2 separate regions of the Homo sapiens genome follow, and region 2 is linked to region 1. A link means that fine-mapping ties the variant in region 1 to the expression of a gene that starts in the linked region. Tissue or cell type: whole blood. Region 1 holds a variant in brackets; the other region holds the start of a gene. All regions are shown on one strand. Distances are between the middles of the regions.

Region 1 (5,840 bases):
TCCTGCCTCCTGCTGTCATGCAATTCCCTCCTGAAGGGTGGCTGGACTTACTCACTTATAACAAACAATACAGTAAAAAAAAAAAAAAAAAAAAAAGTGATGTGTTGTCTCTTCCGTGATTAGGTTGAAAGAGACCATGGCATCTGTCTTGGATGCATACTCTCTCTCGCTGGCTCTGGGGTAGCCAGATGCCATGCTGTGTGCTGCCCTGTGAAGAGGCATGGCCAGTAAGGAACTGAGGGCAGGAACCAGGGAAGATTTGGGGTCCTCAGGCCAGCTGCCCATTGGGAATGAAACTCTACCAACAGCCACCTGGGGGAGCTGGAAGTGAATCTCATCTTAGCTGAGCCTTCTGATGAGACTGCAGCCCCAGCTGACACCTGGATTGCAGACTCATGAAAGACCTGAAACTCTACCAACAGCCACCTGGGGGAGCTGGAAGTGAATCTCCTCGTAGCTGAGCCTTCTGATGAGACTGCAGCCCCGGCTGACACCTGGATTGCAGACTCATGAAAGACCTGAAACTCTACCAACAGCCACCTGGGGGAGCTGGAAGTGAATCTCCTCGTAGCTGAGCCTTCTGATGAGACTGCAGCCCCGGCTGACACCTGGATTGCAGACTCATGAAAGACCCTGAGCAGAGGACCCAGTTTGGCAGAGCCCGAATTCCTGACCCACAGGAACTGGGAGATAAAACTCTGTGGTTTTAATCTTCTCATTTTAGAGGTAATTTTTTTGTGTAGCAATAGGTAGCTGACAATGCACAGCTAAAATAATAGATAATTAACCCTAATGCTAGTTTCATTCATCCATCAGGGTTTGCAAAGTAGTGATATTCTACTTCTGTCTTCCTTCATTATTTATTAGCAGAAATGTATCTATAAAAAGAAGTGTTCCTTCATTAACTCTTTGGTCATGTTGAGGTACAGTTTGCATAGGAAAGGCAGGGCAAATGCTTGATTCTTTCCCTTCCTTTCCTCATTTATAAAATAATGAACTGTTTTCCTGGCATCTTTCAACAATGACTAATGAGTTTTTAAAGTATAATTACAAGTTCATGAGTTTAAACATTTTTTGATGTTCCCATTAACATTATTATCCTTATTGATATTCAGATCTTCCTGTCTTTGTCCAGTGCCAGCCTATTTGATTTAACTCCTGAGCCCCTTTGGCACTGCCCTAATAATCTTTGACAGCTACTTTGTTCTCTGGCATAAGAAGACATTCCAGAATTACATTAGACATTTCCTAACCCAGATTGGACAGCATACACTTCTCTCCAAGAGCCCCTCTTCCTCTTCAAGAGAAATGGTACTTAGAGACCACAGTCTGGGTGTTAGGTGTGCTTGTGGTTACTGGATTTGTCGTCATTTTTAGGCCTTGTCAGTGGACAGAACTAAGGCTTTTTTTTTTGAAAGACACATTATGAGTACAAATGGATACTTTCTATTTAAATTCGGATTTACATAGTTTTTACTTAATCTTATTGATAATATATCTGCATCTCCTTTCTCCCACACCAAAAATCTCAAACAATACCCAACATAGTTATTCATTTGTTTTATCCTGTAACACACACAATATTTTCAAAATGACTTTACCAACACTACCATCAACAGTATATAACCACTGAAAATAGTTTAAAATTATTTTTAGATACTTTTAAAGTCCTTGGGTTGTGTCGACGTACAGACAAAACAGTGTTTTAAAATTATTTGGAAAATGATTACTTAAAATAATGAAAACTTCTTTTGCCATTCTTTCTTGTTGTCAGGCTATATGGATATACATCCAAATGACTGGATTTTAAAATCACTTGGAAGAGTTTGGTAGGTTCATATTGTCAACCCATAATGCAAGTCAGTTAGTTTCATTTTGCTTTCAATTTTAAGAATTCCTTTTACAAGTTAATTTAATTAAATTAAGTAATTACACAAACATTTGACATGAGTCTAAATCCAAATCTAGAAACCAAGATATGGTCACAGAAGTCCGTCCCTATCCCCATCCCATTTCCACCTGTTTCCTACAGGTAACAGTTTAATTTAAAGCAAATTTTGTAGCTTATCTTTCCATTTGTAAAACATACAGCTGATGGCTCCATCTAAAAACACATCAATTGTCTATATGTACATAAACATGCTTTTTTTCATTTACAAATACATTCTGGAGATGACCATATGACAGTGTGTAGAAATATTTCTCCCTCCTCTTTGCAAGTGCTCAGTGTCCTGTGGTGTGAACACGCTTCATTCAACCTGGGCCCTTGGGAGAGATGCTGAGTGGTTCCCGGGCTGTCCCCACTCCACACCGTGGCAGTGAAGAGCTGCTGAAGTACATGCTTCATAGTCCTTGCGTCTCTCTGTGAGTACATTCCTAGAAGTGGGGTTATTGGGTCAAAGAGTAAATGCATCTCTAATTTGGCTAAAGATATTGCCAAATCCACCTGCCTGGGGGTTTGTGCCACCTTAGAGATCAGTGATCAATGGGTGATATCCGAGGACGTCTTTCTATTGTGGTCAGACTCTTGGATTTTGACCTGACTAATGGAGGAGAAATGGTGTTGCAGTGAACTTTTGATTTGTGTTTCTCTTTTTATGATCGTTTTGAGCTTAATTTGTGTTTCTCTTTTTATGATCGTTTTGAGCATCGTTTCGTATCTTTAAGGAGCAATTTACATCTCCTCTGTGAGCGTCTACTCCCATCTCTATCAGCAGGCGTCTTGCCTGGCTCCGGAGGAAGTGTCTCTGAAGGCTGGTGGTCCCAGGATAGGGCAAAAGAACGGGAGTGAGAACTCTCCACACAGTGCTTCTTCTGGGGTTAAGGACCCTCTGCCTCAGTGGCTCCTGGGCGTGATTAAACTTGCCATTTCCTGGGCCCATCCTAGACAGGCTGCTGCAAGCCAGCCAGGCCGGGATCCTGCTGCCCCGGGGAGGACGTGGGGAAAATCCCTGCTGGAGGGACTGCCCCTTCCTTGTCCAGCCACTGGGTGTTTATGGTTCAGTTTAGGGCGGGGATGACAGCACACGACACACACTCCGCTCTCAAGAGTTACTCCTCCCTCCCCGCCAGACTCCCCCAACCGGAGGTCTCCCCAGAGTGGAGGACCTTCCAGCGGCTGGCAGGCGGCCTCAGGCAGGCAGTGGGGAGCCTCTGCAGGTTCCCGAGCCAGGAAGTGGCACTTAGGAGTGAGGATCTTAGGAGCGGGGCTCTTGGACAGGAGGGCGAGTGAGTTGGGAGGGCCTCAAGCGGGG[G/A]CCCGATGGCTCTCTCTGCTGAGAAGGGAGGGCCCTAGGGATGGGGACAGAGAGCTGGCAGTTGAAGGGCCAAGGAGCAGGCAGCTTCCCAGTCACAGAGCCTTGTGCAGAGGAAGGGGAAGGAGTCCGAGAGGGTGGCCCTGCTGTCCAGGGCCAAGAAAAGGGAAAGCCGCTGGAAATAGCAGAAACCTGGCTGGGGCAGCACCCAAGGCCCACCCCGAGGCCAGGTGGGGACCCCAGCGGGGCATCTGGCAGCAGTGGGTCCCCAGGAGCAGGCAGTGGGAGCCATCAGGGTGAGTGAGCTGGCGGGGGTGGCCCAGGGGCTGGGGTCACCTGCCCTCAGCCCAAGGAGCCTCTTCTGGCCTTTGGTGGCCAGGGCTGGGATCTCCCTGCTGGTGGCCAGATGCCTCGACACCCCATAGGCTGGGTGAAGGTGGGGCAGGAGTTCCAAGGCGTGGAGACGGCCCCTGAGTGCCCAGGGGCCTCCTGCTGCAGGTGGGCAGAGCTGGAGGCTCCACTGTGAGGGTGCCTGGTGAAGGGAGGCGTGGGCACGGGGGAGGCAGGGAAGGGCCCTGGGTGCGACTTGCAGCCCCTCAGACCCTCTCAGGACCCCTCCTGCCCCCATCGTGGTCCTCTCAGGGCCCCTCAGGATCCCTTCCAGACCCCTGGGACCCCGTGTCCCCTGCTCGTCCTGCGGTGGTGCCCAGCTCCTGCCAAGGGCCCTGCACTTGGGCTGTGGGGACCCCCTGTGGGGATGGGGCCATCACAGGAGGCTGAGCACAGGGCGGGGTCTTGGCTGGAGGGGACCTTAGGCCACAGGTGCTAGTCTTCTGCAGCCACCCCCCAGGACCCCTGCCCGCTACCTCCTCTGCCCCACAGCTGACAGGCTTTGCCCTCCCCTGCCCCTCTGTGGCCACACACTCAGTTCTCTATACACTTTTATTATGGAAAACATCAAATACACACAAAAGCAGGGCATCTAGGACAGAGACCCTGTGTCCTGGTCCCCAGCCCCTCACAGTGACACCGCCAGGCTTTAGGCAAGATCAGTGGGGGAGGGGAGTTTCCCAGCAGGACGTGCACTTCCAGACCTGGTTCTGTGAAGAGGGGAACAGAAAGTGCTGAGGGTGACAGGGAAACCTCGAGAAGAGGGAGGTGTACTCACATCCTCTCTCGGGGTCCACAACTGAGCCCCCACACAGAGGACCCCACTGGTCTGCCTGAGCTGCTGGGTGGGCAAGTGAGGCACTGGCCTCGGGGGCACAGCGCTTGAAGGGACACCAGAAAAACAGTCATAAAGATAAACCGTAATGTGTTGTTTTATTTCTTATTTATTTATTTATTTATTTTTGAGATGGAGTCTCCCTCTATCGCCCAGGCTGGAGTGCAGTGGCGTGATCTCGGCTCACCACAACCTCCGCCTCCCGGGTTCAAGCAATTCTCTTGTCTCAGCTTCCCGAGTAGCTGGGACTACAGGCACGCGCCACCACGCCCAGCTAATTTTTGTATTTTTAGTAGAGATGGGGTTTCACCATGTCGGCCAGGCTGGTCTTGAACTCCTGACCTCGTGATCCCCCTGCCTCGGCCTCTCAAAGTGCTGGGATTACAGATGTGAGCCACTGCACCCAGCCAATGTGTTGTTTTAGTAAACCAAAACTATGCAAAGGACGCATGAGGATCCAAGCGACTCATTTAGGATGGCAGCTTCACTGCAAAAGGAGTCTCGATTCAGACCTCAAGACATGCTTCGTGGGTCTCACTCAGGAAGGAAGTGGAGGCAAGTCAGAATGTGGTGAGAAGAGAGGGTTTATTGAAAGTTGCTCCATTACAGAGCAGGGTGTCGTCAGAAAGCAAGAGGGGGAACACCCCAGCTTTAACTTTTTCTCATACAGGGGTCTCGTCTGTGTAAAGACTAAGCTAAACTGTGCCTAACATGTATTATTCTATTGATTTAAAGAAAACTGTCTGTCACGGGGTCTTGCTCTGTTGCAACCAGGCTGGAGTGCAGTAGCACGATCTCAGCTCATTGCAATCTCTGCCTCCCAGGCTCAGGTGCTCCTCCCGCCTTAGCCTCCTGAGTAGCTGGGATTACAGGCATGCACCCCCATGCGTGGCTGATTTTTTTTTTTTTTACTTTTTGTAAAGATGGGGTCTTGCTATGTTGCCCAGGCTGGTCTCAAACTTCTGGGCTCAAGCCAACCTCCCACCTTGGCCTCCCAAAGTGCTGGGATTAGAGGCCTGAGCCACCGCGTCCGGCCAAGGGTAGTTGTCTGGAAAGCATATATTGTTCTGGATACCAGGGCACTTGGACACTTTGCTGTCATAGAAGTGTGTCCACGCAGGCGTCACTGGCTGCTGCTTTAGCTGTAAACATCGTATGACCATGGGCTGTGGCTGGCAGGTATGTGCCTCATTGGTCTCAAGGTGGAGCTGAACGTAAACGGCTTTTCTCTGGCTCTCCCAGGCTCCTGCTTCCCTGACATCGCCTCACAGACTTCCCTTCAAAGCAGGGCTGTCCAATCTTTTGGCTTCCCCGGGCCGCATTGGAATAAGAAGAATTGCCTTGGGCCAAACATGAAATACACT
Region 2 (6,680 bases), 33 kb before region 1:
GGGTGAGCCTGAGCATAGGAGCACAAAAGCCCTGTTACAGAACTTCAGAGAGTTTAAATACCCTCTAGGTGATTCCATTGGTTACTTGGGGCACACGTTATGTAGATGGAGAGCCTGTTACAGAACTTCTGAGAGTTTAAACACCCTCTAGGTGATTCCATTGGTTACTTGGGGCACACGTTATGCAGATGGAGAGGATGAAGTTACAAAGTCATTTGCTTGGCCTATGTCCTATGGAGAAGGTATTTCCTATCATAACTGAAGTGTGAATCAGCCTATGTTCCCTGCACTCAGACCCTATTTTCCTGCCTCCTACCTACAGCTGTGTGGTCCTGAGCTGTCACCTCTTCCCTTTGAAGCTCAGGTTCCTCATCGGTAAAATGAGGCAGAAATACTCACTGCTGAGATGTGTGGGGATCGCACAAACTCAGTGTCTCAACATGTTGTACGTGTGTTTTGGCCCTCTGAGCCCTTGAGGGCTGCCCCAGGTGGAACCCTCTTCACTTTTCTTGGAGAACTGACCATGGGTTGCAGCAAAGCCTAAAATGGTTCCTGTTTCAGCCCTGCCTGGGAAGATTCAGCTGGAACCTTTAGGCTAGGAAAAGGTTCGAGAAGGACCCTACCCCCACTGTGCCCGACCTGAGACAAATCCACAGAAAAGCAATCCTTGCTAACTCTGGGCAGTATGTGGACAAGATACTAATTTTTAATCTCTGCATCTCCATGAGAATGCAAGGACCAGCACAGTGAAGTGCCCAATGATTGCCCCCTGAACAAACGGAGATGTCAAGTTCAGAAAAAATCCTGGCTGAGGAAGACAGGGAACATTCCCTTGAAAAACAAGGGCAGTCATCCAGACAGAGCAAGAGGAGTGGCAGGATAAGAGGAGGCAGACAGGGTTGATTCCACAGGGCTCCTCCTCAACACCCATGAACCTGAGAAGTGGTCAGATGCGTTTCAGGCCACTGGCCAGCAGTGGGGTCATGGCGGGAACTAGTCCCACCTGAAGGACTCTCATCTCCCTACAATCCCCAAACGCTGAGGCATGGGGATGCTCTTCCCTCCTTGAAGTGAGGGCCCCGAGGCTCTCATACTTTAATTACAGTACTTCAGACCAAGAGCCTGCAGTTGAGGAGGCCAGGGTCATGAATCAGCTGCCCCCCAAACTCCTTATCTCACCAACCCAAGCTGCTTACAACCCCTCCAGATATCCCAGGAGCCGGGGGGAATGTCATTCTTCAGGGCTGAGGGAACATCTTTGCACCCTGGGGTAGCAGATGGGACCACAGGGCATGTGGAATGTCTTAGTCTGTTTCACACTGCTATACCTGAGGTTGGGTTTGTTTTATTTATTTATTTATTTATTTAGAGACGGAGTCTCGCTCTGTCGCCCAGGCTGGAGTGCAGTGGTGCGATCTGGGCTCACTGCAAGCTCCGCCTCCCGGGTTCACACCATTCTCCTGCCTCAATCAGCCTCCCGAGTGAGGGGCTGGGACTACAGGTGCCCGCCACCACACCTGGCTAATTTTTTTGTTTCTTTTTTTTTTTCAGTAGAGATGGGGTTTCACCGTGTTAGCCAAGATGGTCTCGATCTGACCTCGTGATCCGCCCGCCTCGGCCTCCCAAAGTGCTGGGATTACAGGCGTGAGCCACTGCGCCCAGCCAAGGTGGGGGAATTTATTTTTTTAAAAAAGCAAAACAGGTTTATTTGGCTCAAAATTCTGGTGGAAATTTCAAGATTGGGCAGCTGCACCTGGTGAGGGCCTCATGCTACTTCAACTCAAGGCAGCAAGTAGAAGGGGAGAGGCATGCACAAAGAGATTACGTGGCCATATGGCGAGAGAGGAAGCAAGAGACAACCGCAGGAAGGCTGACTCTCTAACCAGCTCTCATGGGAACTCACCCCTCCACAAAGGACACTAACCTATCCATGAGGGATCCACCCCTATTACCCAAACTCCTCCTACTAGGCACCACCTCCTAACACTGCCTCATTGAGGCTCAAATTTCAATACCATTTTGGGCAGGGGCAGACCACATGCAAATCACAGCATGGGGTAATAGTGGGGGCAGGTTGACACAGGGCTGCTGCCTACCCAGCACCAGCTGTCTCTTGGCCCCTTCCAGATCCTGGCAATCTGGCTACAGGCATGGGCCCAGCCTTGGACACAGATGTGGCCACAGGAAGCTGTTAGCTCTCCAGATCTGATCAGCCTGGGAGAGCGGCACAACAAAGGCTCCCAAAGGAGAGTCGGGATCCTCAGCTAGCCTCAGCTCTGCTACCCACCCATATGTGCCCAGAACAGGAAAGATACGTGTTTCTTACTCCTCCGGGACTCCTAGGTGAAGCTGAGACCAGGCTCTTCTTGAGTCCTCTCAGCTATGGTGCAACCACCAGCCTAGCAAGGAATCAGAAACATCTTCCGGAAGAGTCAGCACCATAGAGGGTGCTGAATGGGCAATGAAGCATCCCGGAGATGAAACATCTGGGCAGTGAGGCATCCCACAGGTGTTGGGCTATGCAGTCACTCCCTTTCTCAGACCGAGGCAAGTACATAAGCACTCTGGGCCCCTAATCAGGGGCCTGGGGCCAGGTGGGATGAAAACAGCAGTGTCCTGCCACCTGAACAACTGCTACTCACGCAGGCCCCACCTGGCCTCTCAGAGGGAGGAACCTGGGACTCCTGAACCAGATTCAGTTTCTCCTTCAACAGCCGGGACTTTTCGCTCCTGACTGCAGAAAAACAGCTTCAATGTGACCATCCTTGATAGTCCGAGGCTGAGTAAAATGGCCTGAGGAGGCAAAATCTGAAAAGCTCTATTAGGTGGCAAACTGCTGTCACTAGAAGAGTTGAGGCCCCCTTCTCCTCCCCTGCCTGACCGCCTTCATTCCTGGGAATGGAACAGGTTCTTGGGGCAAGGGTGAATCCTCGAGCAGGTCCCAGGATCACTATCCTCACCTCCCCGCGGCACTGAATGGCTATAGCTGTAAATGTGCGTCCACGGGGTCACTGTCCAGCCACCAGGACCAGGTGCCTGGCCATCTGGGGAATCGGAAAACGCTCAGCGGGATGCTCTGGCCACCTCCCCTGCCCCCAGTTAAGATGTAGAGCGTTCAACCTAAAATGCCTAGAAACAAAGCCCAGGCCCGGGAAGGTCGAACGAGTGCGACGCCGCTCCCTCAAGCTCTTCCCTCGGAGCCGTCTCATTTCCCAAAACTCCCAAACACATCACAGAGAGAGGTGTTGAGCCAGGTGGTCACTCCCTTTTCCAGAACCACAGCAAGAAGTTGAGCCTGCTGGGCTCCTAACGAAGGCCCTGGGGCCCGGTGGGATGAAAAGCCCTATTAGGTAGCAAACAGCTGTCACTAGAGGGGTTGAGGCCCCCTTCTCCCCTGCCTGACGACGACGGCGGCAGGAACTCGACCGGCGCCGGACAGCTCGCAACTTGCCTTACCAAGCGTAAATCTCGGTTCCTCCCAACTACCCGCGGCCACGGCCTCCGCAGCAGAGCGCCGGAAGCAGAGACGCGTTTCGGGAGGAAGGTGCATGCTGGGAGCGGCGGCGCATGCTGGGAGCTGTAGTCTGCGACGCAACTCGGCCGAGGTGGCTCCCTGGTCCCTGAAGCTCCCAGAGCCCGCGTGTTCAGGCGGTCCCGACACCCCGGCCCGAGCCTCACCGGCTGGAGGACTGAACGCCTGCCGGCCCTCCGGGTATGAGCGGAGGCCGGGATAGCCCTGGGCTCCGCCGCCCCCGGAAGGAAAAAATACAGTGCGGTCCGCCGCCCGACCACGAAAGAGCGGAGCTCGGGAGCCCCGCCCCCTGGGCCTCCGACGTCCGTGGCGCTTTCCGTCGCGCGAGTGCGATTGGGCCGCCTGTCACGTGACCCGAGACCCCACGCCCGGTTGGCTGCCGCCTGGTTACCAATGGGAGACTAGCGGGCCGGCGTACTGGCCTGGTCCAGCACCTGCGGGGCCCTCGGGCTTGGAGGGCTGGGCCGGGCGGGGAACGGGCGGGGCGGGCCGGAGGCGGCGGCGGCTGACTCGCCTTCTCTCCGGGGCTGCGACCCCGAGGCAACCGGCTGCAGATGGGAGCCCGCGGAGCCGAGGATGCGGGCGGGCCGGGGCGCGACGCCGGCGAGGGAGCTGTTCCGGGACGCCGCCTTCCCCGCCGCGGACTCCTCGCTCTTCTGCGACTTGTCTACGCCGCTGGCCCAGTTCCGCGAGGACATCACGTGGAGGCGGCCCCAGGTGGGGCCGTGTGGGGTGCGGTGGGCGCCGTTTCTGGTTTCTGAGATCTCCGCTCCTCGCAGGGAGCGGGGCGGGGTGGGCGGCCAGGGTAGCTCCGAACGCAGGGTCCGCCGTTGTTCTCCTCAGAAGTGGGCGCCCGGCCCCCTCTTTTCGTACCTCCTTCATACCCCCGCCCAGAACGAGCAGGACTCGGCGCTACCCTAAGGACGCTAAACTAGGTCGTGGCCTCCGCCTGCGAGAGCTCCAATCCAGGAGGCTCAGAGCGCTGCGAGAGGCGTTTTAACAGAGCCCCAAACCCCGCCCCACCTGTTTGCTTTCGCCCTGAAGAGCGTTTGTGTCTGCTCCTCCCGCAGAGAGGGCCGCTCGTGCCCCTCTGAAGTGGCTAGGCCGAGCCCACAAAGCAAAGCGTGATAGAATTTCAGTTTTGGATTTTGTGCACCTGCCTTTCCAGTTGTAACACCTAGAAATGGCACCTCCAAGGGATGCCCTGGCCGAGTGCTGTGTTCATATTTTTAGAAATGGTTTATCTGCTGAATAAGACTGCCCAGGGAGCAACCTTGCCCTAAGTGGATGCGGTCTTAGCGGAGACAACTGATGGCCGCCAGTCTTCGAACAGAGCTGGAACTTCTGGGCTCTCGTGACTGAGATGGCTTTGACAGGCCACCTGGTTTCCTTGGACAACACTGAAGGGCCTGGGAGGAGGCAAGGGTCAGACCATGTAGAGCCTTGTCATTGGAATTTGGGTTTTATTTTGTTAAAAGATTGATTTTAGGTGCAGCTGGAGGCCACTAGAGGGTTTTGGTAGAGGAGTGGTTCTCTTGGATGTGTGTTTTTACAAGCTCACTCTTGCTGCTGGGTGGGAAGTGGGTTGTCGGGGCAAGAATGCAAGGGTCCATTGTAGTGGTCCTGGAGAAAGATGAAGGGGCTCAGATTAGCTTGACGACTGTTAGGATGTGGGTTTGGAGTAGATTGGTTTGAGACGTACCTTGCAGGGGGGATCGAGAGGCCATAGTGACTGATTGAAATAGAGGGTGAGGATAGTGGAGGGATCAACATGCCTTCTGGGTTTCTGGCCTGAACAGGTGGGTGGATGGTGGTCCTGGGACAGAGCCTGGGGGTGACCTAGAGTTGGGCTTTGCTCTCACGTCTTCAGGTGGAGCTGTCCTGGAGGCAGGTGGATCTGTCCTGGAGGCAGGTGGATACGGAGCAGGGATAGGCTAGAGGCATTCTTCTGGGAGGCGGAGCATATTAGATGGTTTACAGTCCACAGCCTGGGAGAGTGTCTCGGGGGAGTATCAGTAAAGAAGAAGGGGGCCTTGGGGCTGAGCCTTGAGGAACCCTAACATTTCTTGGGGTCAGGCAGGTGCCCTGACAGATAGACTTGAGAAGCAGCAGGCAGTGAGGGAGAGGACACCCGGGGAGCATGCGGCCTCACAGAAGCTGAGTGGGGACCACCTCAGGGGCAGCAGATGGCTGTTCTGCTGTTGTGAATGCTGCTGAGTAGTTGGGGAAGAGAGTTGGGACCAAGAGAAGCCCAGTGGGTTTGATAACATAGAGGTGACAGCGACATTGATCGAGGCAGTTTAGGGGCCATGATTGGCTCAGAAGCTAGAGGAGCCTGTGTGGAGAGTGAATGGGAAGCAGGTAGTGGGCATGGCAGCTCTTTCAAGAGCTGTAATGAAGAGAAGCCTGAAGGAGACTATGGTGCTGAGAGATAATGTCTTAAAGAACATGGGGGTGGGATTCTGCCCGGGGAGCTGGAAGGGAAGGAGTTGTGAGAGGAGCCCAGGCTCTGAGGGCAGGAGAGAGGGTCAGGTCCAGAAGCAGGAGGCAAGGTCGAAGCTCAGAGGGGTGGGCAAGGGCAGTGTGGATGTTTTGAGTAGACGGGGAGAAAGGGGAAGGTATATGATAGTTAGGGGGTGTGGGAAATGGAGCCTGCTAGAGAAACAGATTTCCAGCAGGATGGAGGACACATTTGAGATTTACCAGCATGAGTAAAAAGTGAAACTTTTCGAAGCCAACATTTAGCTGTTTTGAGAAGGAGCTTGCTAGAGTTTGGGATTTTTCCAGTAAGGAAGGAAGGCACCCCAGAATTAAGCTGGACAGAGGCATTTGAAGCCAGGAGCTGAAGGACACCCGCTGCAGGAAACCACCTTCCTGTCCCTTTTTGGGTAACACTGATGATCGGAAAAGCTCCACCCCAACTCCTGTCATCTAGAGCCTTGGGTTCTTAGTTTGAAGGGTTCCACAGCAGGCATGATCTAACTCTGGACAACTTTCTGTATCTCAGGAGATTTGTGCCACACCCCGGCTGTTTCCAGATGACCCACGGGAAGGGCAGGTGAAGCAGGGGCTGCTGGGGGATTGCTGGTTCCTGTGTGCCTGCGCCGCGCTGCAGAAGAGCAGGCACCTCCTGGACCAGGTGCGGGGC

The links. PIP is the estimated chance that this variant, and not a neighbour inherited with it, causes the effect.
Region 2: CAPN10 starts here. The variant in region 1 is fine-mapped to the expression of CAPN10 in whole blood (TOPMed, PIP 0.96).

Annotation. Positions count from the first base shown.
Region 1 is chr2:240,616,668-240,622,507 of GRCh38, forward strand. It overlaps a transcript of GPR35 not described here. Among named protein-coding and RNA genes, the nearest start is that of GPR35, 5.9 kb to the right of the region's middle. RefSeq lists enhancers at 4,887-4,946, 4,967-5,106. The variant G/A (reference allele first, on the strand shown) is at 3,255.
Region 2 is chr2:240,582,804-240,589,483 of GRCh38, forward strand. CAPN10 (calpain 10) reads left to right here and starts at 3,931. Exons shown (of 12, transcript NM_023083.4): 1 at 3,931-4,249; 2 at 6,540-6,671. The coding sequence starts at 4,109. CAPN10-DT (CAPN10 divergent transcript) reads right to left here and starts at 3,513. Exons shown (of 1, transcript NR_103792.1): 1 at 1-3,513. RefSeq lists enhancers at 1,678-1,747, 2,118-2,487, 3,478-3,657, 3,709-4,003, 3,942-4,768 and a silencer at 3,968-4,197.